Linked DNA regions of Homo sapiens. The protein of the gene in region 1 purifies or fractionates together with the protein of each later gene. This does not show direct contact. Each region holds a gene or a part of one and is shown in the gene's direction. Other genes may lie near its edges. The genes, in order: KLC2, KIF5A, PPP4R3B, PPIL2, KIF5C, CREB3L2 and SEPTIN2.

Region 1 (4,101 bases):
CATGGGCATCAAGGCCATGTGTGAAGCTGGAGCAAAGTGGGAGGTGTGACTAGCTGGAGACACAACTGCAGAAATGATCCTGAACCGGGAAGGACTGGGAAAGGGTGGAGGCCGGGTGTGGTGGCTCACGCCTGTAATTCCAGCACTTTGGGAGGCCCAGGTGGGAAGACTGCTTAAATCCCGGACTTCATGAGACCCTGTATCTACAAAAAATAATTTTTCTTTTTTTTTTTGAGACAGTCTTGCTCTGTTGCCCAGGCTGGAGTATAGTGGCACGATCTCAGCTCACTGCAGCCTCTGCCTCTCAGGTTCAAGTGATTCTCCTGCCTCAGCCTCCTGAGTAGCTGGGACTACAGGCACGCGCCACCACACCCAGCTAATTTTTGTATTTTTGGTAGAGATGGGGTTTCACCATGTTGGCCAGGATGGTCTTGAAATCCTGACCTCGTGATCTGTCCGCCTCAGCCTCCTGAAGTGCTAGGATTACAGGCGTGAGCCACCGTGCCTGGCCAAAAAATTTTTTAAATTAGCCAGCTGTGGTGGTGTGCACCCGTAGTCCCAGTTACTCAGGAGGCTGAGGGGGAAGGACCACTTGAGCCTGGAAGGTAGAGGCTGCAGTGAGCTGTGACGGTGCCATAGCCCTTCGGCCCAGGTGACAGAGTGAGACATTGTCTTAAATTAAAAAAAAAAAAAAAAAAGAGAGAGCAAGAAGGGAGGTTGGACCCTAGGCAGGAAGGCAGGAAGAGACTGGAAACTAAGGAAAGGAGTTGCAGAGGCTGGGGAGAGGGGTGGGGGTTGAGGCCAAGGCCTTTGGATACTTTTCCTGCCCCTGTGGCTCCTCATGCCAACTGAGCATTTGGGACACATGCCCCTTCCCTACCTGGGAGCTGCAGAAAGGCAGGGGATGCTGTGGCCCCTCAGCAGAAGTGGGGATGGAGTCTTTGGGTGGTCCTTCAGCCATCTAGCAGAGTTCTGTGGGCAAGCGCTAGCCCTGAGGCAGGGAGCAGTAACCTACTGGCTGTGGCAGCAGAGGCTTGAGTACAACCCAGGGAGAGACGAAGGAAGGGGCTAGTAGCTCAGGGAAAGCACAGCACCCCAACTAGCCCTTTTGGGGTTCTCCTGATCCTAGAAGGAAGGAACTGGGGACTCCCAAGCCTCCTGGGTTTGGGCTTTGCATTATGGTGTGTCGGGGGCCTTGAGGAGATTCTCCCTTGACAAGCAGAGAAAAGACCTGCAGCTCCTCACTGTAGGGCCAGGCCTGGCCCTTCACTGGGTGCCAGAGCCCAACTAGGCCCAGGCTACAGTCATAGGCGAGGGGGTCGACAGGCCTCCGACCCTTACCTGGGCTGGTTGCACAGGTGATCTTGGCATTGTCGAGCCACCTGGGGGCTGTAGAATCAGAGAAGCAGAAGCTGCGGGCGCAGGTGCGGCGTCTGGTGCAGGAGAACCAGTGGCTGCGTGAGGAGCTGGCGGGGACACAGCAGAAGCTGCAGCGCAGTGAGCAGGCCGTGGCCCAGCTCGAGGAGGAGAAGCAGCACTTGCTGTTCATGAGCCAGATCCGCAAGTTGGATGAAGACGCCTCCCCTAACGTGAGCTCCTACCATGGTCACTGTTGCCCAGCAAGGAGGCCTGGGAGCAGGGAGGGGCAGCATGGAGCAGATTCGGCTCCACCCCAGCCCATGGACACCCCGGCTGCCCTGTGCCTCCTTCCCTGATGCTCATCCTGTCTTCCTTCCCAGGAGGAGAAGGGGGACGTCCCCAAAGACACACTGGATGACCTGTTCCCCAATGAGGATGAGCAGAGCCCAGGTGCGGATGGGCAGTTCTGGAGTGGGGGAAGGAAAGGTTGTGTGAACTCTTGGTCCTTGGGACCGAGTGGCTGCCATGTTCCTTCCTGCCTCACTTCTGATCATGACATCCTAGTGTGTTAGAGCTTCAAGAACAGTTGTACGTGCTGCTGCTTCTCACATCCCCCCAGCTCTGTGGTGAGCAGACATCACAATTAGCTGTGGAGTCACCAGCCTGGCTTCCAGTGCTGCTCTGCCACTAGCTTCCCTGACCCTTGGGAGAGTTCTCTTCCTCTCCGAATCACCTCTGAAGGAGGCACATGCAGACAGCCACAATGGGGCCAGTGCCTGCTTTGCTGATGGTACTGGTTATGCATCGGGGCCTCCACTCTGTACACAGGGACACAGGCTCAGAGGTTAGGCAGCTTGCCCCAGGACACAGAGCCTGAAGTACTGGAGCTGGGCCTCTACCCCCTCTTTCTATGGGGTAACTAGACCCATTCTATAAATGGGGAAACTGAGAAAGAGTGGTTAGTGACTTGCCCAGGGCCATGTGTCAAGTGGCTCAAAGGCACAGCTGGCATGTGCCATCCCAGTCCAGTGGGCAGATGGTACATCTGACCTCCTGCCCTTGGCCCTGCAGCCCCTAGCCCAGGAGGAGGGGATGTGTCTGGTCAGCATGGGGGCTACGAGATCCCGGCCCGGCTCCGCACCCTGCACAACCTGGTGATCCAATACGCCTCACAGGGCCGCTACGAGGTAGCTGTGCCACTCTGCAAGCAGGCACTCGAAGACCTGGAGAAGACGTCAGGCCACGACCACCCTGACGTTGCCACCATGCTGAACATCCTGGCACTGGTCTATCGGTGAGGACTCTCTGGGGGTGCCCAAATTCTTCTGGAAGGCTCCAGCCCTGGATCACTAACCCTTGGTGCCTGCTGTGGGCCAGGACTCGTGGCCCACCTGCGTGGAGCTGGGCTACAGATGCAAGTAAAACTGTCTAGTGTAAGAGAGAGGCTTGGCCAGAACTGGGGAGGGACTGCACATGAGGACTCCAGGGGTCCTGGGGAGTCCACACAGCTTCTCCAGGCACCAAGGCTGGAGGAGGGGCTTTGCCAGAAAGTGAGTTTGCCCAAACACAAGAGGGCTAGAAAAGGTTCCCATGGCAAAAAGCCAGCATGAGCAAAGGCACTGGGACCTGGAGAGCAGGACACGCTAAAGGGGCAGCAGGAGAGCCATGTGGCGCCCAGGAATGCTAGGCACCAGGCAGTCGGTGGGACCCCAGCACTGCGCACCCCAGCCAATTGTGAGAAAACTGCCTACAGCCCTTGGAGCTTGGAGAGCAGGAGCTGAGCAGGTCTCCCCACACTCTGGGTCTCACTCTGTCATACACACTCAGTGAGTACAGGAGTGACCACAGGGATTGCAGACCATTGGGGAGGGCCTTGAGCTGGAGGACAGCCCTGACCATGCTCCTACCTGCTCCCAGGGATCAGAACAAGTACAAGGAGGCTGCCCACCTGCTCAATGATGCTCTGGCCATCCGGGAGAAAACACTGGGCAAGGACCACCCAGCCGTGAGTGAGGGTTGGGTGGGAGGTGGGGGCTGTGCCCCATCCCCTGCAGGTCCCAGAGTCCTGCAGGGCCTGAGTCAAGAAGCTTCCGTTCTCCCACCTCCAGGTGGCTGCGACACTAAACAACCTGGCAGTCCTGTATGGCAAGAGGGGCAAGTACAAGGAGGCTGAGCCATTGTGCAAGCGGGCACTGGAGATCCGGGAGAAGGTGGGAACAGGCAGGGCTGGGCAGGCTGGGGGTCTGGGAGGCAGGGGCCCGGGCAGCCCTGAGCCCAACCCCTGGCTCCCTCTCCCATCCCAGGTCCTGGGCAAGTTTCACCCAGATGTGGCCAAGCAGCTCAGCAACCTGGCCCTGCTGTGCCAGAACCAGGGCAAAGCTGAGGAGGTGGAATATTACTATCGGCGGGCACTGGAGATCTATGCTACACGCCTCGGGCCCGATGACCCCAATGTGGCCAAGACCAAGAACAACCTGGTACCTTGGGGCTGAGAGGAGCTGGAGGATGGGAAGGAGGGAGGCAGGGATGAGGTTGGGGAAGAAGGAGAGAAAAAGGCTTGGCTGCATGCATCCCGCTCACTCTCTGGGTCTCCCGCTTCCAGGCTTCCTGCTACCTGAAGCAGGGCAAGTACCAGGATGCGGAGACCTTGTACAAGGAGATCCTCACCCGCGCTCATGAGAAAGAGTTTGGCTCTGTCAATGGTGAGTGCGTGGTCACCAGGTGCCTCTAGCCCATCCATCC
Region 2 (4,101 bases), on another chromosome or scaffold:
CTCGGCTCACTGGAAACTCCGCCTTCCGGGTTCACGCCATTCTTCTGCCTCAGCCTCCCAAGCAGCTGGGACTACAGGCGCCTGCCACCACGCCCGGCTAATTTTTTGTATTTTTAGTGGAGACGGGGTTTCACCGTGTTAGCCAGGATGGTCTCGATCTCCTGACCTCGTGATCCACCCGCCTCGGCCTCCCAAAGTGCTGGGATTACAGATGTGAGCCACCGCGCCCAGCCCACTCTTGGGTATCTTTTAGACTCAGATCTGAGAATCTCTTCCTTCTTCCCTCTCTGCTCTTTTCTTTCTTCCCAGCCTAGACTGATGTAAAGGGGTTCCTGATGAAAAGGGGCTATAATTGGCTTCAGCATTTGGAGAGCGCTCTCCATTTTAATGCGTCTGTGGAGCCTTCTAGATCCTGTAACTGGGAATGTTTTGAGGGAGTGTGTGTGGGGGCTGGGGTGGGGTGGTTGGTGTGTTGGTGCCCATGTGTTTGTGGGGGGAGGGGAGGGGCAAGATTGGCTTGAGAGTTACATTTAATCCCCTTTGGCTGGGTGCCTGGCTTCATGAAGCATGGATAGAGATTGTTGGTGGGAAAGAGATGAGAAAGCCAGTCTCATCTTTTCACATTTTTCTGCCTGTTTTATATTCTGGCTGCACTGGCAGTTGATTAAATGATGCCCACCCAGATTAAGGGTGGATCTGCCTTTCCCAGTCCACTGACTCATATGTTAATATCCTTTGGCAACACCCTCACAGACACACCCAGGATCAATACTTTGCATCATTCAGTCCAGTCAAGTTGACACTCAGTATTAACCATCACAATTCCACCCCTCATCAACTTGAACCCATACACATCTCCTGAGATCGTACAAATCTTCAAATAAGGACAATAATAAGGTCATAATTATGCGCCTAATATAATACAACTATCCTTCGTACAACCGGAAATGCACCAATCCCCAACCCAAATGCTATTATATAAAGTTAACATACTTAAATGCTGATACGAAGTCAATAAGTCTTATGTCACATAATAAAGGAAAAAGGAAATTAAAAAAAAAAAGATGAGAGGCATTGGCTTGAGATAGACATATTTTGCTTGTTTCTGTTTCTTGGCCACTGGGTGGGAGAAACATTGAGGTAGATTACAATTTAAAATTAATTACAATTCAAAATTAAGGTAGATTTTTCTTTAATAATATTAAAAATAATGTAATTACAACACTAATACATTTTAATTGTTAACAAAGTTCAAGACAAAGGAAAGGACACCGAAGAAGCTAAAAATCACCCAATATCTTACCACCCCAAAGAAGCACTGTTATTAATAATAATTTGATGTATTTTTCCAGTGTTTTTTCTACATATATACATATGTTAATTTTAATAAGATTATATATCATAAACTATATATTGTTTTGTAACCTTTTTTCTCAAACAAAATATTATTACTATTTTGCCATTGTTAAATATTTTTACATAACTTTATTATTTTACAATTTTTCTGTTTTTTTTTTGAGATGGAGTCAGGCTGGAGTGTGCAGTGGTGTGATCTTGGCTCACTGCAACCTCTGCCTCCCGGGTTCAAGCAATCCTCCCACCTCAGCTTCCTGAGTAGCTAGGATTATAGGCATGTACCACCATGCCTGGCTATATTTTACAATTTTCAATTTAACTTTCGAATGTCTTACCTGCACATGTGACAAAATGCAAAGGATATGAAAAGGTTTATATTGTTTCCTTCTCCTTCTCACCCCTCTTTTCCAGCCACACAGTTCCCTTTTCAGAAGGCAACTTCTTGTGGATCTTTCCAAAAACCTACTATACATTTATAAGCAAATACATATATACATGCATACCTTTTTTTACACAAATGGTAGCGTATTATACATCCATTCTGCACCTTTAAAAACAAAAACAGCCTGGGTGTGGTGGCTCATGCCTGTAATCTAAGCACTTTGAGGCCGAGGCGGGAGGATCACTTGAGGTCAGGAGTTCGAGACCAGCCTGACCAACATGGTGAAACCCCATCTCTACTAAAAATATAAAAATTCTGGCTGGGTGCAGTGGCTCACACCTGTAATCCCAGCACTTTGGGAGGCTGAGGTGGGCGGATCATGAGGTCAGGAGATGGAGACCATCCTGGCCAACATGGTGAAACCTCGTCTCTACTAAAAATACAAAAATTAGGCCAGGTGCGGTGGCTTACGCCTGTAATCTCAGCATTGGGAGGCCAAGGCGGGTGGATCACCTGAGGTCAGGAGTTCAAGACCAGCCTGGCCAACATGGCCAAACCCCATCTCTACTAAAAATACAGAAATTAGCCGGGTGTGGTGGCGGGCGCCTATAATCCCAGCTACTCTGGAGGCTGAAGCAGGAGAACTGCTTGAGCCCGGGAGGCAGAGGTTGCGGTGAGCTGAGATGGAGCCACTGCACTCCAGCTTGGGCGACAGAGCAAGACTCTTGTCTCAAAAAACAAAAAGCAAAACAAACAAACAAAAAACCCAAAACAAAACAGAGTCTTGGACACCCTTCCTTATCAGCACATAAAGATTTATCTCATTCTTTTTTGGTTTTGTTTTGTTTTTCAAGACAGGGTCTCACTCTGTTGCTCAGGCTGGAGTGCAGTGGTGCAATCATGGCTCACTGCAACCTTCACCTTCGAGGCTCAGGCCATCATCCTGCCTCAGCCTGCTGAGTAGCTGGGACCACAAGGCCCATGCCACCACACCTGGCTATTTTTTTTTAATTTTTGTAGAGACAGGGTCTCCCTATGTTGCCCAGGCTGGTCTCCAACTCCTGGCCTCAAGGATCCTCCAGACTTGACCTCCCAAAGGGCTCGGATTACACGGTACATGAGCTATCTCATTCAACTGTATAATTTGTTGTAGGGATAGGCCATTATTTAACCAGGCCTCTGTTGGTGGACATTAAGGGTTGTTCTAATCATCTGCTATTACAAACAGTTGAATGACCTTGTATAAATATTTTTTGCATATGTGCAGTATGTCTACAGGATAAATTTTTCGAAGTGGAGGTCATAAAGCATATGCATTTAAAAATGTGAGGCTATTTCCAAATTGCCTTTCACAGAGTTGGCTCCAATTTCTATGTACCCTCAGCAGTATGTGTGAATATCTATTTACTCACATTCTCACCAGTGTAATGCGTTGTCTATTTTATTTTGGCCACTTTCATAGGTAAAAATGGTGTTTCATAGTTTTAATATGCATTTTGCTTATTAACAGTGAGGTCGAGCATTAATTAATATTAATTAATATATTTTAACATTTAGGAGCCACTATAACATCATTTTATGATGTTATAATTTATGATAGTGATATAATTTACATACAGTGTACAGATCTTAGGCAAACAGCTTGATAAATTTTATGACATATGTAGACACCCATGTAACCACTACACAGATCAAGATCTAGAACATTTCTGTCACTCCTGAAAGCTCCTTCATATCCTCTTCCTGTAAATACCACTTGTATGTTGTTACCACAATAGCAGGTAGCTGCTGTTTTGACTTCTAGCACTACAGATAAGTTCTGTCCATTCTTGAACTTCATATGAAGGGAGTAATACAGTATGTGCTCTTTTGTGTTTGGATTCTTTCAACGTGTTTTTGAGATATATTGACGTTCTATTTATTAATGTTCTATTATGATATTTTAATTTTATTTATTTATTTTTTTTGGGACAGAGTTGCACTTTGCTGCTCAGGCTGGAGTGCGGTGGCGCGATCTCGGCTCACTGCAACCTCTGCCTCCTGGGTTCAAGCGATTCTTGTGCCTCAGCCTCCCAAGTAGCTGAGATTACAGGCATGCACCGCTATGCCCAGCTAATTTTTGTATTTTTAGTAGAGACATGGTTTCACCATGTTGGCCAGGCTAGTCTCGAACTCCTGACCTCAAGTAATCTGCCTGCCTTGGCCTCCCAAAGTGCTGAGATTACAGGCGTGAGCCACCATGCCTAGCCAGTTATGGCATTATTTTAAATAACAGTGAGGAATAAAATATATGTATATGCTATAATTTAATTCACTCCTTAGGTTAACCAGTCTCCTAAATGTTACTCCTTTAAGTCGTCTTC
Region 3 (4,101 bases), on another chromosome or scaffold:
CCATGCCTGGCTAATTTTTGTATTTTTTGTAGTGACAAGGTTGCACAGGCTGGTCTTGAACTCCTGAGCTCGTGATCTGCCTGCCTCAGCGTCCCAAAGTGCTGGGATTACAGGCATGAGCCACAGCGCCCAGCTTAGGCACCAATGTTAATACTGAATTTTCCTTGTTACATTACTCATTTTTTCATGTTTTTTTCCCTCTTTTACTGTTTCTCCTTTCCATTTGTCATTGTTTTTTTAAATTTTATTTTTTTCTTTGTCATTGATTTTTATTCAGACTTTTCCACCTTTGGAAGGGATATTAGATAGCACTCTGATAGCCCAGCAAAGTTAACTCTTTACTGTACAACGCAGCACTCTACTTCTTAAAATCTGTGCATGTTGCTGAATATGTATTTAGTTTTTTGCTCCTAACTACTGCATGATATTTCACAAAATCATATCTCATGTTTTACTTTTTCAGTTCTGGGAAGTCATTACTGATCTTTGAAAGGACAATTTCAATTTCAGTAAGCGCCATATTACTTAATTATTTCTTAACCACCCCTGCCCGCCTTTTTTTTTTTTTTTTTTTTTTTTTTTTTTGAGACAGAGTTTCACTCTCGTTGCCCAGGCAAGAGTGCAGTGGTGTGATCTCGGCTCACTGCAACCTCCGCCTCCCAGGTTCAAGCAGTTCTGCTGCCTCAGCCTCTCGAGTAGCTGGGACTACAGGCATGCGCCACCACGCCCAGCTAATTTTGTGCTTTTAGTAGAGACAGGGTTTCTCCATGTTGGTCAGGCTGGTCTTGAACTCCTGACCTCAGGTGATCCGCCCAACTTGGCCTCCCAAAGTGCTGGCATTACAGGCGTGAGCCGCCACCCCTTATAATGAGAAAATAGAACAAAAAAGCTTCCCTGAAAAAGTTTGATGGTTCAGATAGTTCAGAGTGTCTTAAGGGGATTGGAGAATGATGAAATAGAAGGAACCATTGGAGAGAAATAAATTATAAAAACAAGAGCAAAGATAATTTTTATATGTTTAGCTTTGAGAAAGCATAAGTTTAGAAGTACATATGGAAATGTTAACCTTAGGAAATGGTATAGACATTTCCTTTGAAATGAATGAAGGAAATGTGTGAAGGTAAGTTGTGAGATGGAGAAATGTTAGAGGAAGTTGAGTACTGATGGGCTTTTTATTCAAAGGAAGCCTCTTATCTTCTGAGACTTAAAGGTGAAGGTAATGTTTGAGAAGTTGGAAAGTGAAAAAATATTTAAAGCAGCAGCTGTAAGGGATGACGATAGGATTATAGACTAGAGAATTTTTATTGAAAAACCCTATTGATAGTGTGGATTTATTGTGAATCCATACAGCAGAGTTCATTGGCTGTCTCTGAGACGTTATGATCAGATTGTGTTGTAGTAATACAATCCTAAAATTTCAATGGCTTGTCACAACAAAAGTTGATTTCTCCTTAATGCTGTTTGACCAATAGGGGAAGGGGCCCTACTCATGAGAGTCATTCAGGGACCAAGCTGGAAGAGAATTCATTTTATTTTATTTATTTATTTTATTTTAATTTTTTATTTTATTTTTTGAGACAGAGTCTTGCTTTGTCTTCCAGGCTGGAGTGCAGTGGTGCGATCTCAGCTCACTGCAACCTCCACCTTCCAGGTTCAAGCGATTCTCCTGCCTCAGCCACCTGAGTAGCTGAGATTACAGGCGTATGCCACCACACCTGGCTGATTTTTGTATTTTTAGTGGAGTTGGGGTTTCACCATGTTGCCCAGGCTGGTTTTGAACTCCTGACCTCAAGAGACCTGCCTGCCTCAGCCACCTAAAGTGCTGGGATTACAGGCGTGAGCCACCGTGCCTGGCCTAGACTTCACTTTTAATTAGTAGTGACTAGCCAGGCATTTCCAAATGATTTGATTTCCAAAATTTTGAATTATTTTGTATTTTAAGGTAATTAGCTGTATACTTGGATATTTTTAGGTTCAAGGTAAAGACCCATCAGTGGAAGTCACACAGGACCTCATTGATGAATCTGAAGAAGAACGATTTGAAGAAATGCCTGAAACTAGTCATCTGATTGACCTGCCCACATGTGAACTCAATAAACTTGAAGAGATTGCTGACTTAGTTACCTCAGTGCTCTCCTCACCTATCCGTAGGGAAAAGCTGGCTCTCGCCTTGGAAAATGAAGGCTATATTAAAAAACTATTGCAGCTGTTCCAAGCTTGCGAGAACCTAGAAAACACTGAAGGCTTACACCATTTGTATGAAATTATTAGAGGAATCTTATTCCTAAATAAGGCAACTCTTTTTGAGGTAATGTTTTCTGATGAGTGTATCATGGATGTCGTGGGATGCCTTGAATATGACCCTGCTTTGGCTCAGCCAAAAAGACATAGAGAATTCTTGACCAAAACTGCAAAGTTCAAGGAAGTTATACCAATAACAGACTCTGAACTAAGGCAAAAAATACATCAGACTTACAGGGTACAGTACATTCAGGACATCATTTTGCCCACACCATCTGTTTTTGAAGAGAATTTTCTTTCTACTCTTACGTCTTTTATTTTCTTCAACAAAGTTGAGATAGTCAGCATGTTGCAGGTAAGTAAAAAGATACTCTTCACGATTCCATTTTTCAGATATTTAGTTCCCTTAATAGTTCAAGCAGGTGTTTATACCCTCTATTTTTTGAAAGATTTATTTTGTTTAAATGTACTATTAAGTACATTTAAAGTAAACAAAAGAAATTGGGACTTTATGTCTTGTGGTTTTAGTGCAACCTTTTATTTATTTTTTTGAGTCGGAGTCTCGTTCTGTCGCCCAGGCTGGAATGCAGTGGCGCAATCTCAGCTCACTGCAACCTACGCTTCCCGGGTTCAAGCAATTCTTCTTCCTCAGCCTCCCGATTAGCTGAGACTACAGGTGTGCACTGCCATGCCCAGCTGATTTTTTTGTATTTTTAGTAGGGAAGGGGTTTCACTGTGTTGCCCAGACTGGTGTTGAACTCCTGAGCTCAGGCAGTCCGCCCGCCTCAGCCTCCCAAAGTGCTGGGATTATAGGCGTGAGCCACCGCGCCCAGCCCAGCCTTTTATATTTTTAAGTAGCCTGTGTTTTAGCTTTTTATACAATTTAGTATTTGTGTTTCTAAAATTGAGGTAGAATATACATAACATAAAATTCACCGTTTTGACTATTTATTTATTTATTTATTTTTTGAGATGGAGTTTTGCTCTTGTTGCCCAAGCTGGAGTGCAATGGCATGATCTCAGCTCGCCGCAACCTCTGCCTCCTGGGTTCAAGTGATTCTCCTGTCTCAGCCTCCTGAGTAGCTGGGATTACAGGCATGTGCCTCCACGCCGAGCTAGTTTTGTTTGTTTGTTTGTTTGTTTGTTTTTGAGACGGAGTCTTGCTCGGTCGCCCAGGCTGAAGTGCAGTGGCGCAATCTTGGCTCACTGCAAGCTCCGCCTCCCGGGTTCACGCCATTCTCCTGCCTCAGCCTCCCGGGTAGCTGGGACTACAGGCGCCCGCCATCACGCCCAGCTAATTTTTTGTGTTTTTAGTAGAGACAAGGTTTCACCATTTTAGCCAGGATGGTCTCGATCTCCTGACCTTGTGATCCACCCACCTCAGCCTCCCAAAGTGCTGGGATTACAGGCGTGAGCCACCCCGCCCAGCCCAATTTTTTGTATTTTTAGTAGAGGGGGGTTTCTCCATGTTGGTCAGGCTGGTCTCGAACTCCCAACCTGAGGTGATCCACCTGCCCCGGCCTCCCAAAGTGCTTGGATTACAGGCATGAGTCACTGTGCCCGGCCAGTTTCAACAATTTTTAAGTGTACAATTCATTGGCATTAAGTATATTTGCAGTGTTATGCAGCAGTTACCACTATCCATTTCCAGAACTTTTTCATCATCCCAAACAGAAACTCTGAACCCATTGAACAGTAACTCCCCATATTCCCTCCTTCCAGCTCTTAGTAACCACTATTCTACTCTTTATGAATTTGCCTATTATATATATCGATGATGCAGCTATTTTTTATTATTATTATTTTGAGACGGAGTTTCACTCTTGTTGCCCAAGCTGGAGTGCAATGGTGTGATTTCGG
Region 4 (4,101 bases), on another chromosome or scaffold:
TCAGGGCCCCTCATATCTGTCCTCAAAGCCACCTGAGGCATCTGAATAGCCACTCTGCAGGCCTGGCTCTGCTTCAGCGCCTCGAGGGCAGGAGCTGGCATGAGCTCTGCAAAGACCCTGTATCTGGCACAGGGTCCCTGCAGGTGTCAGAGAACCCCAAGTGAATTAATGAAAAACACTGACTTAGAAAAGCAGGTGCTGGCTGGAGCGTGGCCTGCTGAGTCAATCACCTCTGTGGCTTGTCCCATTCTAACCAGAGGTCGGCCCACGGCTGCCCACGTTCCGGTCCGATAGCTCCCTAACAGCAATGAATGCTCGTTAGCCATGTGCCTGGAGGAAGGTCACAGCTCAGCCAGCAGCTAGCGAGGCTGCGTCCCCGTCCCTGCCCCTGCCCCTGTTTGCTGCCCTGCCTGGGGCAGACCACCTCCTCCCTCATGCCCTGCTTGACTCCCCCAACCTCAGTGTAGCCCTGGCCTCTTCCACACCTCTGACAGCTGGCCGTCCTTTGCTGCATGTGGCTGCCATTTGGCCGTAGGCTGGGTTCACTCTGCTGGGCATTCTCTTTTTGCCACAGGACCCCACCAATTTGGACAAGTTCAATGTCTCTAACTTCTATCATGTGAAGAATAACATGAAAATAATAGACCCAGGTATGTACACCTAGGGGCTGGGCTAGGCGAGGGGGCTTTTGGATGAAATTGGGACAGTGCTCCCTGGGTAAAGCCCCCGCTTTCCTGGAGGTCAGGGGGTCCCAGCCCAGACAGGCCCTGCATTTTCTGAACTAGTGTTCAGAGAATCTGAGCCAACTGCAGCCTCAGAAACAATGGGCGGGATAGACTTGCTGCCCTGCCAGCACACCTGCTCAGGTTCCCCTGCTCCCTGCAGACTGGCCGGTGCTGTCAGTGGGCAGGTGGTGGGGTGATGGGGTCCTCCTGTTTCCCTGGCCTCTGGTGGCTGTCCTGCAGCCTTGGAGGAGCCAGCAGGACTCATGTTCAGAGGTCACTCGGCCTTGTGCTGCAGAGCAGTGGCCTGGGCACTTTGTGAGCATTGTTTGAACGGGTTTTAGGTAGGCTGAGCACGTGAACTGGGGAAGATTTGAGTCAGGAGAGCCTGAGGTCAGGGTTGGGGCTGGGCCGTGTCTGTGCTCTCTGCACAGGGATGCCGGCCCCTCTCCACAGGGTGGGCTGCTGTCCAAGGCCCAGTAGGCAGCAGGCACCCTCCTGAGTCGGCAAGAATGGGTGATTTCACATCTGGAAAGACCCCCAAACACTTCTATTATTTTAAATAAAAATAACCTTTAAAATTACAGAAGCAAAGCAACTGGGTGTGGTGGCTTATGCCTGTAACCCCAGCACTTTGGGAGGCCAAGGCAGGCGGATTGCTTGAGCTCAAGAGTTCGAGACCAGCCTGGGCAACATGGGGACACCCTGTCTCTACAAAAAATAGAAAAATTAGCTGGGTGTAGTTGGTGCGCCTGTAGCCCCAGCTACTTGGGGGGCTGAGGCAGGAGAATCGATTGAGCCCAGGAGGTGGAGGCTACAGTGAGCTGAGATCTTGCAACCGCTTTCTAGCTGGGGCGACAGAGCTAGACCCTGTCTCAAAAGGCTGGGCGCGGTGGGTCACGCCTGTAATCCCAGCACTTTGGGAGGCTGAGGCAGGCGGATCACGAGGTTACAAGATTGTAACACAAAAAAATTAGCCGGGCGTGGTGGCGGGCGCCTGTAGTCCCAGCTACTCAGGAGGCTGAGGCAGGAGAATGGCGTGAACCTGGGAGGCAGAACTTGCAGTGAGCCGAGATTGCACCACTGCACTCCAGCCTGGACGATAGAGCGAGACTCCATCTCCACAAAAAAAAAAAAAAAAAAAAAGAAAAAAAAAGCAAAGCGTATACTCTAAAAAGATTAGAATATACAGATAAATATAAAATATACAAATCAACCTGAAGTCCATCCTGAGACCCTTGTGAACTGCCTGGGGAGACCTTCAGGCCTGTAGCGGGGCACTGTGGCATTCTGTGGCTGGCAGTGGCACGGTGCCTGCGCCATGGCTGGACGGCCCTGGGCTATTCTAGATCTGTGTCCCCAGCACGTGTGTGGGGAGGCTACTGGGGGCTCGGCGGCTCAGGGCCATGCTACTGTTTTGTAGATGAAGAGAAGGCCAAACAGGACCCGTCTTATTATCTGAAAAATACAAATGCCGAGACCCGAGAGACCCTGCAGGAGCTCTACAAGGAGTTCAAAGGGGACGAGATTCTGGCAGCCACCATGAAGGCCCCGGAGAAGAAGAAAGTGGACAAGCTGAACGCTGTGAGTGGCGGAGGGCACTCGGCCAAGCCCAAGCCCCGTCTTCCTGCCCATCTCATGGCCTCTTGGAGTGGTCCTGGGAAAGGGGCTCATGGGGGCCTGGGATACACGGCAGGGAGGCAGCCAGGATCCCCCAGAGCTGTGGTGCCCCTGATGGCTCTGAGTGCACAGCCCTGGGGCTGCCCTGAGGCAGATAGAATCTGAGAAGGCAGAAGGGGAGGGGCTGATGTCCACACTGGTCGTTGAAGAACCAAGGGGTGTGTGGGGGCATGTAGGGGAGATCCCTGCCACAGAAGGTCTGCCTTGTGCTGTGGTCCCAGCCTGAGCTCAGTAGCCAGGGCAGGCACGTTGAGCGGGCACATGTGGTTCTGTGGTGGCTGGGAGGGCAGGGCCCGATGTGCACTGGGGCCCAAAGCCATGCCAGGGAGAGTTGGGGCGTTTCATGGTCTGCTGCGGTGCTGACGTGGATGGCATGCCTGGGACTGCACGGTGCCACCTGTCTGGGGCTGTCGTGTTTGCTTCTTCCTCCTGTCAGGCAGAGCATGGGGATCTGGAGCTAGGGGGAGGGCAGAGACATGGGCAGGTAGCTCTGAAGTTCTCCTTCTTAAAGAATTATTCAAATTCTGGAAAATTTGAAAAAGAAAGCTTGTTGTCCAGTGTGTCACTCCGTCTAACACACTGCCCTTAGCACTTTGATATATTACTTTTTTTTTTCTTTTGGAAACAGGATCTTGCTATGTTGTCTAAGCTGGTCTTGAATTCCTGGCTTCAAGTGAGAGCCTCCTGCCTTGGCCTCCGAAAGTGCTGGAATTACAGGTGTGAGCCACTGTGCCTGGCTTGTATTTTCTTCTGATGGGAGAAACCCCTTTTTCTTCCTCTATGATAAAAAATAACATTTATTGGGGCTTTTCCCCGACCCCTGATTAAATATGTAATGTGTTTAGTGTAGAAAGTTTGAAACTTTTAAAAAGAAATGAGGCCAGGCGTGGTGGCTCACACCTGTAATCCCAGCATTTTGGGAGGCTGAGGCAGGAGGATTGCTTGAGGCCAGGAGATCAAGACTAGGTTAGACAACATAGTGAGACCTTATCTCTACAAAAAATCAGCCAGGCGTGGTGGCATGCGCCTGTCGTCCCAGCTACTCAGGAGGCTGAGGTCGGAGGGTCACTTGAGCCCAGGAGTTGGAGGCTGCAGTGCACCAGGATCACACACCACTGCACTCCAGCCTGGGTACAGAGCAAGACCTTGTCTCATAAAAAAATTAAAATAAAAATAAATGAGAAGTCAGCCATACACTCCTAACCCTGAGGTGGCCAGTCCTGTGTGGTATTTTATCTCCAGGGTTTCACCTGATATCATAAGAGTCGGGATCCAGTGGAGGCCAGGGGACCCTGGCTTGGCCTAGCCTTGGCTTCTTCCTCCTGCTGGTTGGGGAGGCCCTCCTGGAGGAGAGGCACCAAGCAGGGCCTGGGGGGCAGGGGTGGCGTGTGGTTGGCTTCTAGGCAAGCGACACGTCCCCACCCAACTGCCTCCCATGGCACTGCTGAGGTGCCACCCTGGTTTCCTTGGCAGGCCCACTATTCCACAGGGAAGGTCAGCGCTTCCTTCACCTCCACCGCGATGGTCCCGGAGACCACACATGAAGCAGGTAGCCACCTTGGCCTCTGTAGCCACCTGCCATGTGACCCAAAAGTGGCAGGGGGTGGGTGTGCTCCCCGACTCCCACTTTATTGGTCTGTCAGGGGCTCCCACTGTCACCTGAGCCCCTAGTCCTCCCCCTCTTAGCTGCTGAACCCCT
Region 5 (4,101 bases), on another chromosome or scaffold:
GCCATTACCTTTGAGAAAAAGGATGATGATCTCTTCTATAATCAGACAGAGCAAACCTGCTTTTCCACCTTGGAACACTGGGATGTGTTAGGACCTGTACTTTCCAATTTATCTGTGCCACTCGGCTTGCCAGGAGTGCAGTGTTTTGCCAATTTCAAGATCTGATAAATTTCAAGAATTTACCCAGCACCCGGATGCTATGATTAATTTGAGCCTGGTTCATTAATTAATTTTATAGATTTGGAAGCTGAAGGGACAAGCAGAGGCCATTAAGACTTCCCAGTGGGACCATAGACACTTGCTTACAAGTTTGGTGACTTGTTGTCCCACCATGATGGCTGAAATCAAATTTAGGTCCTGGGTTTATGTTTTTGCAGTTGTTGTTTCTTAATGAGTTTTGGAATGCTTTCTTTTGAAAAGAAGTCTCTATTTACTACATGAAAGGCAGATGTATATTTTACTGAAGATAAATCATCTACAACTTTCAAAAGCAGATTTGAAGGAGTTTTTTTTTTTTAGCTCTCTAAAAATTAGCTCCTCAAATCGCTTTTCATACTAATAAGGGAAATTAATTGGGGGATTTCTTGAGTCTAAACTTTTAGAACCTCTATTTTCACTTTCAGAATACCCTTTGGTGGGAATGGGGATTTTTTTTTTCCATCCACATTATCCTGGGGCGGAGGGTGGGTGGGTGACAGCCTGTCCTGCTGACCCCTTGGTGTCAATGCAGAGTGTGGAGTTGGACAACGATGATGGAGGGGGCAGTGCTGCCCAGAAGCAGAAAATTTCCTTCTTGGAGAATAACCTGGAGCAGCTCACCAAAGTTCACAAGCAGGTAGGAGAGTTCTGCCCGCTCCCCTCTGATTCCCTCCTCTCTCCTGGAAAGAAGCCCCACCAGGTTTGGCCACAGTGTGCGGAGAAGGCACTGAGATTGAAGGTAAAAGAACTGTACACTATCAGAGGACATGAGGGCTGGAAAGGTCCTTACAAATCCTTTAGTTCTCAGTGACTTCCCGTATATATAAAGGACTTTCTTTTATCAAAGCCAAATATAACGCATAGGGTTTGAGCTCTCTGGGGTTGGAGAGGGAAGTGTTCAGAGGCCTGTCTTTTCATCCTGCCTCCACCCCTGACTTTGGACACCATCTAGCCTCTGTGTCTCCCATGACACCTCTGAGGTACCTCTGTGGACCTGAAAGTGGACACCACTGAGCTGGTTCAAGTCCTTTATTTTTACAGATGGGGAAACAGACTGGTGCCTTGCTTCATTGCACCGTGGGAGGACCGGGACTGGAACCAGCACCCTCTCTGCTCAGCTGCCCATTCCTAGCGATCTCAGATGCTCTCTCGGATGCCTGCGATGTGCTGGCATTTGTCTAGAGTGACAGAGAGTGATAACTGTGTCCAAACTCACCAGTGATTTCAGCAGGTCATTTGTCTTGGATACTTTCTTTTTAAATGTTGGTGTGTGCATGGCTGTTTTCCCTCTTTAGGAATTGGGATATGATGGAAACGGCCCAAGTTTTTAGACCACATGGCCGAGGAGATGTCATTTCTCTTTGACTTGTTAAGTCTTCTTCAATATTACTGATGATGGCATTTTTTCCCCAGAGAGAGGATGATAGATTCTAGATAGTTGAAGTCACTCAAACAAATTGTCGATGAGAAATACGAAAGCAGAAACTGTCAGGGAGCTTGAAATAGGGCTCTGAGATGCATTTTTAAAATTTATTTTTATTTATTTTTGTTTTTTTTAATGTTTTTTTTTTTTTTTTGAGGCAGAGTCTTGCTCTGTCGCCCAGGCTGGAGTGCAGTGGTGCGATCTCTGCTCAGTGCAACCTCTGCCTCCTGGGTTCAAGAGATTCTCCTGCCTCAGCCTCCCGAGTAGCTGGGATTACAGGTGCGCGCCACCACTCCTGGCTAATTTTTTTGTATTTTTAGTAGAGACAAGGTTTCACCATGTTGGTCAGGCTGGTCTTGAACCACTGACCTCGTGATCCGCCCACCTTGACCTCCCAAAGTGCTGGAATTACAGACGTGAGCCACTGCACCCAGCTGAAATGCATTATCTTATTCATGGATTGAACGAGCATTTATTAAAAATGTACTCTCTGCCAGGCACTAGAGCTGGTGCTAGGAGAACAAAGCAGGAGACCCAGCAGTAGCTCACTTTGGTGTAGCACTTTGTGATTTTCAAAACTCCCTCCATCCATCTGGGTCCCCTATTATGTAGTACACTTGTGTTATAGATGAGAAACTTGAGACTTGTGGTGGTCAAATGACTTACACCAAGTCAGATGGCCAGGACATAAAGAGCTGGCCCTTGAGCCCACTCCTACCTAGGGCTGGGCTGTTGCTTCTTCAATCAGCAAAAAGGCGCAGTCTCCTCCTCTTACCTTAGCCTCTGGATGTGTTGCAAAGCTGGGTCCAAACCCCATGCCAGTGTAAACAGCAGGTTCTGCATGGAAGGAAGCCCTCTGAGAGCTCAGGAACATGCTTGTTTTTCACTGAGTCCTTTCAAACCGACTTTAAGTGTTTCAGCTTTCTCATGCTAATTTAGTATTCTCATATGTGGTCGATTTTCTCACACAATCCCCCTTTCCTCTACACACACCCAAACAGAAGAGGAGGTAAATCCTGCCTCAGATGGAAAGTTTCTTGTGGTGGGAAATAGGTTTTAATTGTATCCCCACCCCACCGTTCCTTGCACCCTGTGAATCACGTGTTCAGGAACCTGGACCCCACAGTCTGAGTTTTCCTTTCCTTTCTGTGGTTGTACGGAGTGCCAAGGACAACCTAGCAGGGGCCACCTGTTCAGCAGCAGGGGCTGCTTCTGGCTGCTCTGGTTTGTGCAATGCTGCCTGCCTGGTAGTAACTCCCTTCCTTTATCCTCCTGCCCCAGCTGGTCCGGGACAACGCAGACCTGCGCTGTGAACTGCCCAAGCTGGAGAAGCGGCTGCGTGCCACGGCGGAGCGCGTCAAGGCTCTGGAGAGCGCGCTGAAGGAGGCCAAGGAGAACGCCATGCGGGACCGTAAGCGCTACCAGCAGGAGGTGGATCGTATCAAGGAGGCCGTGCGGGCCAAGAACATGGCCAGAAGGGCCCATTCAGCCCAGATCGGTACGTGCGTGCACAGTGGCGCCCGGGGTTTGAGAAGCTACTGCGGCCTCTCAGCTCAGATTTGCTAAAAGGTGAAGACAGCGCTGGCCCACTCTGGAACATCTGAAAGGCTGGGTTGGAGCCCGCAGGACGCAGCCCTCACCGCACCCTGTGCTCACCCTGTGGGAATGGGAATGTCAGGCGCCCCCGTTATCCTACTCTGAGATATTCCAGCATACATCGTGGTCTCAAAACTTCTGAGCTGGGCAGAGAGAAGCCAGCCAAGGCTGTAGGCCTAGGTCTTGGGCTATAAATGGGTACACTCTTAGAAATACTGGAATAGGAGGATATTTCTCTGCAAGGTGTGAAGGGCCCTGTGTTCTGCACCCGGTGGGAGCATGAAGGAGCCCATATGTAGCCAGAGCCCCAGGGAAAGCCTCCAAGTGCAGGTTTGGAAATACCCCTGGAAGAGCCAGGCTGGCATCCATGACAGGGTGTGGCTACAGGCTGGCACAGAACCTGGGGAGGTCTGGAGTCTCAGCCTCTTCAAGACCTGTATGGATTTGGGCATTTTGCCCATGTAGGAAATGAGGGTGTAGCCAGAGTCCTGGTTCCCAGGATAGCCATAGGGACAAAAACAATTTAGGAATATTCTCTAAACAGCTTCTTCTCCTTTTTTTTTTTTTTAAATTGAAACATCTCCAATAACATGTAATTTATTTCCCATCAGATATTGCTGTGTAGATGTATTGCAAACCAGCAGTTTCACGTTTCTAGTTTTAAATCATACCTTAGAATAGTGGTTCATTGCATGTGTAGGATTTCATACCCTTTGAGAATCTATTAAAAGCTATGGACCCTCTCCCCAGAAAACAGCATCACAGGCAGAATTCTGCATCCAATTTCAGGGGCTACACAGATATCCTTGAAAGTCATGGGGAACCTACGATCCATTTCAGATGAAACTGAAAATCTTTTTTTCTAACTTTTCTTGGCCCAAATT
Region 6 (4,101 bases), on another chromosome or scaffold:
CATTATTTCATAATGTGGCTCTTATTCATAAGGCAGCCTTGTTTATGTGTTGCTAATTTGTCTATGATCTAGAGGATTTCCCTTGGCTTAGCAAAAAATCTTTGACGGATTATTTTACTGTCTCTGAAATTGTTCTCATGATAGTAACATTGGTTGGGAGGTGGTAGACATAGGCACAGTCCTGAAAGATGAGAGGGCAGTACAGAGTTTTATATTTGCCCTCCTTCTCGAATGATCCCTGAGTTACAGTGTTCATGGGAAACAGGGGTCTCTGATGTGACATTGCTTTTGCAGGAGTTATAAGATATAGCATCTAGATTAATAATTGAATTAATTACAGTGCTTGCAGCTAGAAGTAACTGAAAATGGATTCAGATCGGCTCATACAGTAAGTAAATTATCTCATGTTGCAAGAGGTTGTGAAATAGAGCCCCTGGCCGGGCGCGGTGGCTGACGCCTGTAATCCCAGCACTTTGGGGGGCCAAGGCAGGTGGATCACAAGGTCAGGAGTTCAAGAGCAGCCTGGCCGAGATGGTGAAACCCTGTCTCTACTAAAAATACAAAAATTAGCTGGGCGTGGTGGCGGGCGCCTGTAATCCCAGCTACTCGGGAGGCTGAGGCAGGAGAATCCCTTGAACCTGGGGGGTGGAGGTTGCAGTGAGCCAAGATCATGCCACTGCACTCCAGCCTTGGTGACAGAGTGAGATTCTGTCTCAAAAAAAAAAAAAAAAAAAGAAAGAAAAGAAAAAAAAAGAAATAGAGCTCCTTGTTGGCTGATTCAGCAGTTCCTCAATGGACCTTGGTTCTGCCCATGTGCAGCTTTCATCCTCAGGTTGGATGTGTGATGGACATAGGAGTTACAGGGGTTACATTCAAAATGACAACATCCAGAGGAAGAAGAGAAGTTGTCTCTTTCTTGTGTCCCTTTTTTAGAATGGAAGAAACTTTTCTTACTAGCCCACTAGCTGATTTTTCTTAAAGCTTTATTGGTAAGGATTCGGTCATATGACCATTCTTAAGCCAATGGCTGGAAAGGAGAATGGGATTTATATTATCAGCTTAGATTAATCATATGGGGATGGAGACTCAACCAGCATGACCATTGGGATCATTAGTAAAATAGTCTGAGTTAACAATTCTTTCCTTAGTCAAAAGGTATGTTTCTTTTCTCATGAACATGGGCTAGCAACTAGAAAATTTAAAATTCACAGTAATTTGCCCTGGGCGCAAAACAGTAAACCCAAGTACTGTGCCACTCGCAGAGTTCTTTTGTTTTTTGTTTTTAAATAGAGACAGGGTCTCCTTATGTTGCCTAGGCTGGTCTTGAACCCCTGGGCTCAAGGGATCCTCTGCCTCGGCCTCCCACAGTGCTAGGATTACAGGCATGAGCTATCACGTCCGGCCCAGCAAAGTTCTAAGAATATTATTTAGCTGTGCTACCAATGCCCAGTGAAAGAAGACTATAGATGTAGAAATAGCCTCTTGAAAGTGCAGGGAAAGGCTAGGGAGGGGTGGGAGCCAGGAGGAGATTATGGCTATGTCTTGACTCACTAACTAGGAGATGTAGAATTAACTGTATTATCTGGACTCTTGGCGTCAGAGTAGAATACCAGGGCTGGAGGTAGCTAGCTGAGCCTGTAATCATGCTTACCATGCAGGACAAGAATGATTTGTTCTGTTTGGGATCGACAGCAGGTGGCAAGCTAAATGCCATTTTTCAAAGAAGCAATTTTTCCAGTTGCATATGGCTGTTCAAATATTGATGAGGGCACATGTGCCTGTCTGCAGCTAAAACTGCCGGCCTCAGCCTGACATGGCTCTACGCTGTCTGGTGACTCTCTTGGGGTAAATAGCCTTAAGCCTTAGCTGGGCATTTGGTAGGATTGAGGCCTATGGTTGCAGGGCATCTGAATTGTCCAAATGAGTGATCTTATGAGTGAGGGAGTGCTGCCCTTGTTTTCTGCCCCTGTGGAATCAGGATGGAAAGGAAATAATGAGACCCACTGTCTCTGGATCAACCTTGAGCCTATTTCTCTTTTTCCCTGCTCAGTGGATGCACCCTGGCCTTTCTAAATGAAGTGCTAAGGGATCTTGATTTTTCCTTGAATCAAATTGTATAGGTTATTCATGAGGCACATGGGAGAAGATGGGCCATTTTATCTATGGGGAATGTAAGACATAGAGCAGTAGAGATTTGCTCAGCACAAGTTCCTTGAGGACAGGAGACATGACTGTCTCTTCTATACCCTCATGGTCCTTAGTCAAGTGCAGGATGCCCAGAGAATCGTAAGTGCTTGATGCATAGTTAAGTAGAGTGAGGCAGTCCTGGAAAATGGATAAGCTGGGTGGCTTTGGCCTGTTTTTATATATTTTTAAAACTCTGGGCAAGACGTGGTAGCCCATGCTTGTAATCCCAGCGCTTTCAGAGGCTGAGGCAGGAGGATCGCTTGAGCCCAGGAGGTTGAGTTTACAGTGAGCTGTGATCACGCCTCTATACTCCGGACTGGGCAACAGAGTGAGACCCTGTCTCAAAATAAATAAATAAATGAGCAAACAAACAAATAAACTCTGGATTCTTGTAAACGGTTTTGCAAATGTGAAAATTCAGTATAATAGTGACTTGGGTAATTCAGTGTTGATATCTTTTCTTGTTTTGATTAGAGAACAAGGTGGGCGTGGGGTGATTGAAACAGTCCCTGTTTCCAGTGGGAGTGGAGTTGATGGCATGGTGGAAAGGGTGGGCTTTCAAGGCAGGCCATTTTGATGTTGAGGGACACAGGCTCTCTGGTGACCTTGGGTACATTACTTCACCTATTTGGATTTCAGTTTCTTTGCATGTCACTGCCTGATCCATAATAGAAGTACTTTTCCAACCTATCCCCTAAGTCAAATGTCTTCTCTTTGAGAACAAGGTGTCCCAACCTTAGGAGTCTGACATCATTCAGAAAGTGGAGAGAGCCTGTCATTATTCTCTCTCATGCATCTTTATTTCCTCTCCTCTCCAGCTCCTACATTGTGCTGTAAACACAGGCCTCTGCCTTGAACACATGTTTGCCAGATGCTCCCTCTTACTCATTTCTTTTCTCTTGTTTACTGCCAGGTTTTCTCAAGTGCGTGGTCACCAGCCATGGCCTCCATTTCCTTAGTCTCTACCCTGTATCCTCTGCCCGCTGGGTCCTACTGCTCAACCTCTCCCTGGCTGCTAAATCCAATAGTCTTTTCTCTGTCCTTACCTGCAGGGCCTCATGGGACTATTTGGCAATACTGACCACAGGATTGTCTCATAACTCGTTTTTGCTTTGGCTTCCATGACACTCTGGCAAGCTTAGTTCTTCCTCCTTTTCTGGCTTCCATACCAGCTGTTAAATGTGAGTGTTTTGGTACTTGGCCTTCTCTTCTCTCTGTATGTTCCCCTGGGCTCTGCTATAAACTTCAGTGCATCTGGTTCTCAGTTTTTTATACTTGTTATTTGTCTTTTGACGAAAAGCAGATCTTTGGAGTTTGACTCAAGCCTGCTAGGTCCACCTGAGCAGCAGAACAGCTCTGGCTGGGTAACCCTTGAATTTTCATGTGTTTCTTGATGTGTTTCAAAGAAGAGCTGGGATGTTGATCCTTCTTATCGCTGCACCCATTTATCTCAGGGCATGTTGAGTGACTCAGCTCTCTTGCAGTGTAAACCCAAGAGGAGCTCATGGGTCATTCCTGGGATTCAGCTGCTTCTACAGTCCGTGTCACTCATTAGAGGCAAGCTGTGTTTTGCCTAGACTTTTGCTTGTACTTTGGCTTGGGAAACCCTCTGTGGCATCCTGTGGGGGTAGGTCTAATCTTTTCGACTGTGTGGAAGGTCAATTCAAAAGTGAGACGTAACTTCTTAGATCACGTACCATATTTTCCTCTTGTGTGTACAGCTGCTCTGGGGCTCAGCTACAGTTACCTCATGTTGAATTGCCTGCTTTTGAGTTGCTGTATTCTGGTGTAGGTGTAATCTGTTTATTTGAACTTTACTGATATTACGAAGAGCTTTGGGGATTTTTTTTTAAAGAATTGAGATGGGTTATTCTGAACCATCCATATTTTAATGCCCGATTCTTGTTAGAATTA
Region 7 (4,101 bases), on another chromosome or scaffold:
GACAGCAGAGGTATCTAGAGAGTGGATTAACAAATTGTGGTGTAGCCATACAATGGAATATTGCCAAGCACTACAAAGAAACGAACTACTCGTAGATGCAACAACATGCATCAGTCTCAGAGCTTTGTTGAGCAAAAGCAGCCAGACACAAAACAGGCCATGTTGTATGATGCCATTTAAAAGTTTTAGAATAAGCAAAGCTGATACATAGTGACAAAGTAGATTGGTGTTTGCCTGCGGTGGGGACTGGAGAGGGTAGACTTCACAGTTACACAAAGCAACTCTAGGGTTATGAAAATAATCTTTATCTTGAGTGGAGTTTGATTATCTGAGTATCTACTTTTGTCAAAACTGTACAGTTTAAATGGGTGTATTTTAGTATTTGTAAATCGTGCCTCAAAGTGGCTTTAAAATAAAACAGGTAGGGGGTTGAGGGTGAGTAGTGAAAAGTAAAACTAGAAAGCCACAAGAATCCTCAACTTTTAAATTGTAGTATTAATAGCTCAAGAAAAATGGGTGTATCAGGAAAACCCTAACACACCTAATTAGTAAATGAGAGACTATTGAAGAGGAAAGGCAGTTTTTAAAATTTTGTCAGACTTCTAAAGAAACAGGTAAAGGGGCATTGCACCACCGTTTATTAAAAGGATGACTTAATGGGATAACAGGCATTTAGTCAAATTTTTACACTCATATTTAGGCATGTTCAACACATTGTTTTGTTCTTTTCATGTGTGAAAATTGCAGTTCACTTAAAATGCAGTCCTAATTTTGTATGTCTGCATGTTTCTTTTTGTTTTGTTTTGTTTTTTGAGATGGAGTCTCGCTCAGTCGCCCACGCTGGAGTGCAGTGGTGCGATCTCGGCTCACTGCAAGCTCCGCCTCCCGGGTTCACGCCATTCTCCTGCCTCCCGAGTAGCTGGGACTACAGGCGCCCGCCACCACGCCCGGCTAATTTTTTGTATTTTTAGTAGAGACGGGGTTTCACCATGTTAGCCAGGATGGTCTTGAACTCCTGACCTCATGATCCGCCTGCCTCGGCCTCCCAAAGTGCTGGGATTACAGGCGTGGGCCACCGCGCCCGGCTGTGCGTCTGCACATTGCAAATTCACTTATTTGTTCTTGATTTTCCCAGAATTGTTTTATTCTGTAAGGGACAGGGTCTCACTCTGTCACCTAGGCTGAAGTGCAGTGGCATGATCATAGCCTGCTGTAATCTCTAACTCCTGGGCTCAAGCAATCCTTCTGCCCTAGCCTCCCAAGTAGCTGGGACTCTAGGTACAAGCCACAACACCTGGCTAAGGTTTTGGGGTTTTTTTTACTTTGTTTTGGTTTTTTGGGAGATGGGGGTCTCACTATTTTGCCCAGGCGGGGTCTTGAATTCTTAGCCTCAAGTGATCCTCCAGCCTTGGTCTGCTAAAGTGCTGGGATTATAGGTGTGAGCCACTATGCCCAGCCAGAAATAATTTTTCAAAAGAGATGTGTACTCCTTCCTCATGCTTTGCAGAACTTAACAGAGGGTGGTTTAGGGTACCCAGAGGACAGTCCAGCACCAGTAGTACCAAGATCAGAAGCAGTTCTCCATGCAGAATTGAGACCTAGATGATCATCTGCAATGAAGCAGTGGGATTTGTGCTTCCTTCAAATGTAAAATTTAATTTTTGGTATTTTGCATCTTTTTTGAAGTTAAATTTCAAATATTCAGAATATGTAGTCACAGTAGTTCAAGAGAGATTCTCACCTCATTGAAAGCTTACATGGATATGTGTCACCTGAATTAGTCGTGTGAACTCAACAAAGTGAGCGGGAAAGTTGCCCGACATATGACAGTTGCCAGTGCTGGGAAACGGGGATGGATTTAAAGCAGGAAGAAGACAAGGTGGCAGAAGGGGGAGGTTGCAGAGTGAGGGTGTGCATGTGAGCCCACCAGACCACAGGCCCTGTCCTGCTCACACGTTTCTGCAGCTCGGGAAGCACAAGGGTTGTTGACACTATGGGATAGATATGTTCAGTTTTCTGAAAATGTGGTGAGTTTAGTGACTAGCAGAACTGATAATTGAAAACCTGCTTTGCATTCTATTTGTCAAAAATAAAAACCAACCTCTAAAGTACATTCCTCACATTTGTGAACAGTTATGTTTCTAATTATATGATGTTCAAGTTCTGTAGTCTCATAGACCTGGATTCAAATCTTGGCCCTGCTCTGGATAGTACTCTGACCTTGGGCAAATTAGAGTTTCTTTGAGTACCCTCAAAGATCATACTGCAAACATAGTAGTACTGTAGGTACTAAACACAGAATGATGTTTGTGAGGTACTTAGCCCAGTACCAGGCCTTATGTAAACACTTAACCGATTGAATGGTGTCATATGAATAAGGTCATGACAAGGTTTTTCTTTTTATTTAAAGGTGAATCAGGTCTAGGAAAATCGACTCTCATAAACAGCCTATTCCTAACTGATCTGTACCCAGAAAGAGTCATACCTGGAGCAGCAGGTAAAAACATTCTTATGTTACTGTAAGTGTAATTCTACATGAAAGATGCTGAAGACTGCCTAATTAATATTTTATGTCTTAGCTGTGTGTTTTGTTTGTTCTTGTTCAGCTTTGAACACAAGGAAAACACTTTTATGGGGTAGGTGTGCTGCACCGAGGTCCTTGGATTTGGGTTGTAGACTTTCTTTGACACGTATCCATGGATCCATCCTCTCTTGAGTTTGTCTGTAAAATGTAATAAGTAGTTTCTGCCTATATTAAATATTTGATGGAAGGATTAAGTGAGAATGTTTTACATCAAAAATGCTGTGTAACTAGAAGATTACTAGGATAGATGTTCGAATTCATCTACTGTCAGAAAGTTCCAGCACAGGACACCAGCATCCACAAATGACTGTTGAATGAAATAGGCACACATAGTGAGAGCCTAAGACTTGGGCTGCTGCAAGAATATGTAGCCCTTTCAGAATATTTTTGAATTCAGTTTTTAAATGAATTCGTAAATTGCTTTCTTTTTCCCAGGAACAGAAATTATAATTTTTAACATTTGTGTTTTTAACCTTCCCCAGTAGCACAATAATCTTAGCTTTAACCTTCCCCTTTCTGACTTCTCTGGGATCTTTTTTTCTTAATCCCCATGGTATCTTTGGAGAACCTACCTCTGTAGAGAGGCAGTAGACTCTGAAGTCACCTGTCGTAAGAACGTGAGCTTTCCTCTTCACATGCTGCTTATATTCCCTATTAAGTTTGTTTCTTTTCTAGAAAAAATTGAAAGAACTGTCCAGATTGAGGCTTCAACTGTTGAAATTGAAGAGCGAGGGGTCAAGCTACGCCTGACAGTGGTAGATACCCCTGGCTATGGTGACGCTATCAACTGCAGAGATTGGTATGCTCCCCCATGCCCAGGGATCTGCATTTGTTTACTTAATATACTTCATAAATTTATAGATAGTGTTAATGAGTGATTATTAAGTTTGGGATTGCTGTATATAATAAAACACCTAGACAATTTAAAGCGTGTTAAATGTTGACTTTTTAAATAAGGAATTTTATAGAGAGTAATTTTTTTCTGGTACTCTACTGTAATTTGAGATCGCAAAGCCAGTCATCCATAGACTGCTAGTATAAATGAAACACCTGGATTTGAGCCGTGGTTGGTGACCGAGATACTGTAGTACATCCTTTCTATGTGGAAGGAAGTGAAACCTGTTAGAGAGTGGGTTGAGTCGTAGTGTCTGTAAATGACTGCTCATTGGCATCATTTTCACAAATAAGGAAATGAAGAAGTAGAAGATAGAGCAGTCTGTCACCTGTACCGTGCAAAGAATGCCACTTTTGTTGTACAAACTCCCTCCTGGTTCTATTCCTGTCAACATAAAGCATCAGGTTTCCACCACTAGATGAAAAGGGGAAGGTTCTGTTATCTTTCTCCTACATTTAGGAATTTCTCCCTTCTTACATGTGAAAGTGCTGTACTGTTTCCCAGCTCAGTTAAATGCTGTTTCCCAGCTCAGATAAACCTGTTCTTGACCCATGTTCTCTACCACCCTGTTCCTCTGCCCCTTTTCACAGTCACGTTCCTGAAAAGAATTGGCAGCCCTGGC

What was found.
Region 2: the proteins of KLC2 (region 1) and KIF5A purify together in Homo sapiens (affinity purification with western blotting; 3 studies listed by BioGRID and IntAct, with this or other methods). This does not show direct contact.
Region 3: the proteins of KLC2 (region 1) and PPP4R3B fractionate together in Homo sapiens (co-fractionation; one large-scale study listed by BioGRID). This does not show direct contact.
Region 4: the proteins of KLC2 (region 1) and PPIL2 purify together in Homo sapiens (affinity purification with mass spectrometry; one large-scale study listed by BioGRID and IntAct). This does not show direct contact.
Region 5: the proteins of KLC2 (region 1) and KIF5C purify together in Homo sapiens (affinity purification with western blotting; 3 studies listed by BioGRID and IntAct, with this or other methods). This does not show direct contact.
Region 6: the proteins of KLC2 (region 1) and CREB3L2 purify together in Homo sapiens (co-immunoprecipitation; one large-scale study listed by IntAct). This does not show direct contact.
Region 7: the proteins of KLC2 (region 1) and SEPTIN2 fractionate together in Homo sapiens (co-fractionation; one large-scale study listed by BioGRID). This does not show direct contact.

What each region holds. Positions count from the first base shown.
Region 1 is NC_000011.10:66,260,384-66,264,484, forward strand, and holds part of KLC2 (kinesin light chain 2), read left to right. Parts: intron 1-1,341; exon of another isoform or gene 1,342-1,358; coding exon 1,359-1,589; exon of another isoform or gene 1,590-1,629; intron 1,630-1,739; coding exon 1,740-1,809; intron 1,810-2,430; coding exon 2,431-2,653; intron 2,654-3,276; coding exon 3,277-3,364; exon of another isoform or gene 3,365-3,467; coding exon 3,468-3,569; intron 3,570-3,662; coding exon 3,663-3,836; intron 3,837-3,961; coding exon 3,962-4,061; intron 4,062-4,101. UniProt on the Homo sapiens protein: Kinesin is a microtubule-associated force-producing protein that plays a role in organelle transport. The light chain functions in coupling of cargo to the heavy chain or in the modulation of its ATPase activity.
Region 2 is NC_000012.12:57,556,205-57,560,305, forward strand, and holds part of KIF5A (kinesin heavy chain isoform 5A), read left to right. Parts: intron 1-4,101. UniProt on the Homo sapiens protein: Microtubule-dependent motor required for slow axonal transport of neurofilament proteins (NFH, NFM and NFL). Can induce formation of neurite-like membrane protrusions in non-neuronal cells in a ZFYVE27-dependent manner.
Region 3 is NC_000002.12:55,596,911-55,601,011, reverse strand, and holds part of PPP4R3B (serine/threonine-protein phosphatase 4 regulatory subunit 3B), read left to right. Parts: intron 1-1,972; coding exon 1,973-2,596; intron 2,597-4,101. UniProt on the Homo sapiens protein: Regulatory subunit of serine/threonine-protein phosphatase 4 (PP4). May regulate the activity of PPP4C at centrosomal microtubule organizing centers.
Region 4 is NC_000022.11:21,682,608-21,686,708, forward strand, and holds part of PPIL2 (RING-type E3 ubiquitin-protein ligase PPIL2), read left to right. Parts: intron 1-574; coding exon 575-650; intron 651-2,145; coding exon 2,146-2,306; intron 2,307-3,875; coding exon 3,876-3,951; intron 3,952-4,101. UniProt on the Homo sapiens protein: Has a ubiquitin-protein ligase activity acting as an E3 ubiquitin protein ligase or as an ubiquitin-ubiquitin ligase promoting elongation of ubiquitin chains on substrates.
Region 5 is NC_000002.12:149,007,233-149,011,333, forward strand, and holds part of KIF5C (kinesin heavy chain), read left to right. Parts: intron 1-730; coding exon 731-835; intron 836-2,902; coding exon 2,903-3,119; intron 3,120-4,101. UniProt on the Homo sapiens protein: Microtubule-associated force-producing protein that may play a role in organelle transport. Has ATPase activity. Involved in synaptic transmission. Mediates dendritic trafficking of mRNAs.
Region 6 is NC_000007.14:137,991,967-137,996,067, reverse strand, and holds part of CREB3L2 (cyclic AMP-responsive element-binding protein 3-like protein 2), read left to right. Parts: intron 1-4,101. UniProt on the Homo sapiens protein: Transcription factor involved in unfolded protein response (UPR).
Region 7 is NC_000002.12:241,332,716-241,336,816, forward strand, and holds part of SEPTIN2 (septin-2), read left to right. Parts: intron 1-2,410; coding exon 2,411-2,497; intron 2,498-2,606; coding exon of another isoform or gene 2,607-2,636; intron 2,637-3,243; exon of another isoform or gene 3,244-3,259; coding exon 3,260-3,383; intron 3,384-4,101.